2 separate regions of the Homo sapiens genome follow, and region 1 is linked to region 2. Evidence: fine-mapped expression QTL. A gene starts in region 2. The other region holds a variant in brackets. All regions are shown on one strand. Distances are from middle to middle.

Evidence for each region. PIP is the estimated chance that this variant, and not a neighbour inherited with it, causes the effect.
Region 1: its variant is the best candidate, but not a certain one, in a credible set for the expression of PLOD1 in neutrophils (CEDAR, PIP 0.53).

The regions. Positions count from the first base shown.
Region 1 is chr1:11,991,919-11,994,827 of GRCh38, reverse strand. It overlaps MFN2 (mitofusin 2), which reads right to left. Exons shown (of 19, transcript NM_014874.4): 4 at 2,138-2,273. Among named protein-coding and RNA genes, the nearest start is that of MFN2, 13 kb to the right of the region's middle. The variant TG/G (reference allele first, on the strand shown) is at 1,094.
Region 2 is chr1:11,933,382-11,936,290 of GRCh38, reverse strand. It overlaps PLOD1 (procollagen-lysine,2-oxoglutarate 5-dioxygenase 1), which reads right to left and starts at 1,574. Exons shown (of 19, transcript NM_000302.4): 1 at 1,436-1,574. The coding sequence starts at 1,511. RefSeq lists a silencer at 1,296-1,765 and enhancers at 942-1,865, 1,986-2,035, 1,866-2,791.

The DNA of each region.
Region 1 (2,909 bases), 59 kb before region 2:
AATGACCTTACCTGCACCCAGTGAGACAGGAAGCCCACTAGCTCACCTAAGTAGGGGGTCATACCTCCCAGGTGAGGATGAAGAAATGATAGTTCAGAGGAGTAGAGGACCACACCTGAGGTTACAGTTCATCAGGGTCAAGACTCTAGGCACAGTGCCTATTCCCCAGGCTACCACTGTGTGCCTAGCATACAATCTGTCTAGATGCCTTTTTTCTTGTATTAGATTTTTTTTTTTTGAGACGGAGTCTCACTCCGTCACCTAGGCTGGAGTGCAGTGGCGCGATCTTGACTCACTGCAACCTCCACCTCCTGGGTTCATGCCATTCTCCTGCCTCAGCCTCCCAAGTAGCTGGGACTACAGGCGCCCGCCACCACACCCAGCTAATTTTTTTTGTATTTTTAGTAGAGATGGGGTTTCACCGTGTTAGCCAGGATGGTCTCAATCTCCTGACCTTGTGATCTGCCTGCCTTGGCCTCCCAAAGTGCTGGGATTACAGGCGTGAGCCACCGTGCCTGGTCATTATACAAGTTATAAATGTTTGGCCTAGTACTTTAGGTACATTGTGGCTTCACAAGGGCCAGTGTTAAAACTGCTTCCATGTCAAAGCAAAGAAAACTGCCTACATATTGGTTTGTCCTGGTGGGGAATAAAAAGGATCATTGGTTCCAGTCACAGGTATAGTAAATGTGGGTACTTTAAGGTTTGGAGCACTTACAAGGCTGTGGTAGAAACAGATACCCCATGGTTATCACATGTTAAACCATGTGTGTCTGTGGAATACTCAATCTCAATGTGCACACCTTTGACTACAGCTGTGGAAGTGTTCCTTTAAACAAAGTTGTGACCCATTTCAATCTGGATAAGGGCAGAAATGGTTCACACTCCATTATTTGTAAAGTTATCTGCTGTTAGCTTTCATTATTTTTGCTACACTCATTTTATTTGTATTTAAAATGTTTCAGGCAACCTAAGAACAAATGTAAAAGTAAAGATGCAGGAAAAATGAATACTTCATGTATATCAAGCTAGCAGTAAAACAAAACAAAAAAAACACGTATTTAACTTATTTTTAGATTTTTTTTTTTTTTTT[TG/G]AGATGGAGTCTCACTGTCGCCCAGGCTGGAGTGCAGTGGCCCGATCTCGGCTCACTGCAGGCTCCGCCCCCTGGGGTTCACACCATTCTCCTGCCCTAGCCTCCCAAGTAGCTGGGACTACAGGCGCCCGCCACCTCACCCGGCTAATTTTTTGTATTTTTAGTAGAGATGGGGTTTCACTGTGTTAGACAGGATGGTCTCGATCTCCTGACCTCGTGATCCACCTGCCTCGGCCTCCCAAAGTGCTGGGATTACAGGTGTGAGCCACCATGCCCGGCATATTTTTAGATTCTTTGCTTTTGTGATTTTTTTTTGATGCTTGCCTAACATGCATGCACTGTAAAAATAGTTAACAGGGAAATAACTTGAGATGATGGCTAGCTTTGTTTAATGTCTTACGAAATTTTCATGAACAATACAAGCACAATTGTTAAGAACACGTGTATTAAATTCATGTAAGTGGAATAAAAGTTTTATGAATGGAGAAAAAAAAACAAATACTGTATGATTCCACTTACGTGAGACATCTAGAATAGTCAAATTCATAGGGACAGAAAGTAGAATGGTGGTGGCCAGGGCAAGGGACATGTGGGACAGGGAGTTATTGTTTAATGGCTATAATACAAGCTTCAGTTCTGCAAGATGAAAAAGCTCTTGAGACTGGTTGCAAATATACCTACTAGTGAATTGTATGCTTAAAATGGTTAAGGTGGTAAATTTTATATTATATGCCTTTAACCTTAATTAGAAAATAAAAAAAAAAAAGTCAGGCTTGATGGCATGCACCTGCAGTCCCAGCTGCTCAGGAGGCTCAGGTGGGAGGATCACCTGAGCCCAGGGAGGTCGAGGCTGTAATGAGCTTCCAGCCTGGGTGACAGAGAACCCTGTCTCAAAAATCAAATAAATAAATAAAATATAAATTAAGAGGAAAGCAATGAATTCTGAAGCATGTCCCTGCCTGGAACGTTCTGTGACCTTGCACAAAGTGCCTCCCTCCCTCCTAGCCAGGAAGAAAGAAAGGGTGGGTGCCTCAAGGACTTACCGGCCAAAAAAAGCCACTTTCATGTGCCTCCGAGCCAGCACCTCACTGATGCCTCTCACTTTGGATAGGTAACCTTTGACGTCCAGAACCTGTTCTTCTGTGGTAACGGGGTCCAGTTCTGCATTCCTGTACGTGTCTGGAGGTGGGGATTGAAAATGGGTCACCACGTGGTCAGAGGAGTTCCACAGTCCCAAGTCTGGAAGGGCCAGAGCGCCGGCCCTGCTTACCCTAAACGAGTCCACCTCTGGCACCCTGCAGCCGACAGGCTGAGCTCCAGATCCTCTATGGTGGCCCCACGGTGTGGTGGTTAAGAAGATGGCTCAGGAGCAACACTGCCTGGTTCTGAAGCTGGTTCTTACCACTTTCTAGCTCTGTGGCCTCAAGCAAAAGAACCTTTCTGGGTCTTAGTTTCCTTAAGCACAAAACGGAGATAACTACATTATCTACTTCATGAGAACATCGTGAGGATCAAACGAATTGAAACACAAATGCTGTGAATGGCGGCTGGTAGAAGATGAATACTTAAATGTTAACTGCCTTCCTTGTTTATTTTTTCTTAACAAATATTTACGAAGTTCTTACCACATGCCAGGCACTGTTCCTTTCACTTTTCAAATTCATTCTCTCCTTTGGTCCTCTTTATTAACATGGCTCCGGAGTTAGTAAAAGGCAGAGCTATGATTTGAATTAGGCAGCCTGGCTCTGGAGTCCAGGCTCTTAACCACTCTATGTCACTTCTTTTTTTTTTTTTTTTTTTTTTTTTTTTTGAGAC
Region 2 (2,909 bases):
GACAGTGGGGCACACACTGCAATCCAATCTGCCTTGAGGAAGTAGAAAGAGCGCTAGACTGGAGCCCAGCTGACCTCGGACCAACCACCTCTGTCTGGACCACCCTGGACAGTCACTTCACCTGTCTGGGCCTCAGTTTCCTCAAGTATAAACTGCAGAGAGGGCCAGGTGTGGTGGCTCACGCCTGTAATCCCAACACTTTGGGAGACCAAGGTGGGCTGATCACCTGAGGTCAAGAGTTCAAGACCAGCCTGGCCAACATGGTGAAACCCCATCTCCACCAAAAATACAAAAATTAGCTGGGCATGGTGGCACATGTCTGTGATCCCACCTACCTGGGAGGCTGAGGTACAGGAGTCGCTTGAACCGGCCGGGCGCGATGGCTCACGCCTGTAATCCAAACATTTTGGGAGGCTGAGGCCAGCGGATCAAGAGGTCAGAAGTTCAAGACCAGCCTGGCCAGCATGGTGAAACCCCATCTCAACTAAAAATACAAAAATTAGCTAGGCATGGTGGCACGTGCCTGTAATCCCAGCTACTTGGGAGGCCGAGGCAGGAGAAACACTTGAACCTGGGAGGTGGAGGTTGCAGTGAGCTGAGATTGTGCCACTGCATTCCAGCCTGGGCGACAGAGCGAGACTCCATCTCAAAAAAAAAAAAAAGAATTGCTTTTACCTGGGAGGCAGAGGTTGCAGTAAGCCGAGATCGCATACTGCGTTCCAGCCTGGGCGACAGAGCAAGACTCTGTCTCAAAAATAAATAAATAACTAAATAAATAATACATTAAGTAAAATAAAAAAAATAAACTGCAGAGAGGAAGACCACCCTGGCAGGGGCTAAGCAGACCACAGGGGACATGGATGAAAGCACAAACTTATCCACAAAGTGAGCCACACCTTCTACCCCCATTCCTCCCCTGTCCCCCTCAAGACCCCTCATTCCCATGGTCATGAGGCCTCCTGGCTCTGGAACCAGACACCTGGGTGGGTGGGGTAAATCCTGGTTCCAAGGCCCACAAGTTGTATGATCTTGGGCAAGTGAATGAACTCTGGAGCCTCAGTTTGCCCAGCTGGAAAACGGGGATAATAGAAGGAAACACTTACCAGGGTAGCAATCATGCCTAACTGATGCCTGGCCCATAGTGAGCACTGGGCAGAATAGCCATTGTCGGTTATTATTATGAAAACTATTATTATTTGAGCCTTTCTGTGCTGAATGGGACTCAGCTGTCACCCTTTCCTTCCCGAAGCAGGAACCGCAGCCCCAAGAGGGGAAGTGATTTGTTCAAGTCACCAGCGATTAAGTGGACAAGGAGCCGGAACCCAGACTCCCTCTCCAGCCCAGGCCTCCCATTCAGGTCGTTCCCAGGGAGGCAGCCCGACACCAGCCCTCCCGCCCGGATCCGCGCTCCCGCCCCCGGCCTTCGCTCCCTCACCCTCCGGCTTGGCGTCGCCCTTCGCTTCGGCCAGCAGCAGCCAGCCCAGCAGGGCCAGTAGCAGCAGGGGCCGCATGGCCGAGGTATGGGGGACGATCGGCCGACCCGGCGGCGCTCGCAGGGCTGGAAACTTCGCGACGGGGCCGCAGGTCCCGCTGCCACGCACTGGGCCCGCCCCGGGGGCGGCACCACCCCGCCCCTCCACGCCCTCCCCCGCGCCTGCCTAGTGGGGAAGGGTTTTTCTGCAGATATGCCCAAGTCCGGGCCTCTCCTTATTAGGGCAGCTCCCTCCGCCTCTCTGTGCAGCTCCCGGGGCTTCCGTCAGGCCCTGCCGTCTCCCTCCCTTCTCTGGGGGGTTCACTCCGACCAGAAAGAGGGCGGTGAGAGGAGAGAGAGGCCACGATTTCTAGACCCCAGGTTCTGGGCCAAGGCTCCATGGCATCGATAGCCACGAGCCCCTGTTTGCTCGCCTGAAAAGTGGGGCTTATGATAGCGTCTGTTCATTGGGTCTTGCACGGGTTAATGGCGTTACCTGTAGCGCACTTAGAGCAGCCCCAGGTCAAGCCCCAAGGAAGTCAGTTTTCATGATTTCATTAGTCCTTCCCAAAACCCAAGGGGTGAGGGTGGGCACGGATGCGTTCAGAGACACGGACACCCCTACGTGGCCCACCCAGGCACTGGAAATGCAGGAAGCCCGTCTCCACTCTCCCCAAAAGGCAATCACTTGATCTCCCTTTGTGTCCCTGGGAGGCAAACCTCTGAGCCAAGGAAAGTCTTGCTTCTGAGGTTTTTTTGTTTTTTGTTTTTTTTTTTTCATTTTTTTGAGACAAGGTTGCTTTCAGTTGCCCAGGCTGGAGTGCAGTGGCGTGATCACCGCTTGCTGCAGCCTCGACCTCCCGGGCTCAAGCGATCCTCCCATCTCAGCCTCCCAAGTAGGTGGGATCACAGGCCTGAGCCACCATCCCTGGCTAATTTTTCTACCTTTTTTTTGAGACAGAGTTTCACTCTTGTTGCCCAGGCTGGAGTGCAACGGCGAGATCTGGGGTCACGGCAACCTCCGCCTCCCGGGTTCAAGCAATTCTCCTGCCTCAGCCTCCCGAGTAGCTGGGATTACAGGCATGTGCCACCATGCCCAGCTAATTTTGTATTTTTAGTAGAGGTGGGGTTTCTCCATGTTGGTCAGGCTGGTCTTGAACTCCCACCCTCAGATGATCCACCCGCCTTGGCCTCCCAAAGTGCTGGGATTACAGGCTGAGCCACCACACCCTAGAGAGATTAATTGTTAAATGAGTAAACGAATCGATGAAAGTTTTTAGGGCCTCTTCACAGATACCCAAAGCCCAACAAACAACTCAACGGTCTCTAGAGTAAGGGCTCCTGGACCAGATGTCAGACAGGGGCAGCCACCTCTGAACAAAAATCCTTCCTTCCTTGGAAGAAACCTCAGACAGAGGCCGGGCACGGTGGCTCACAC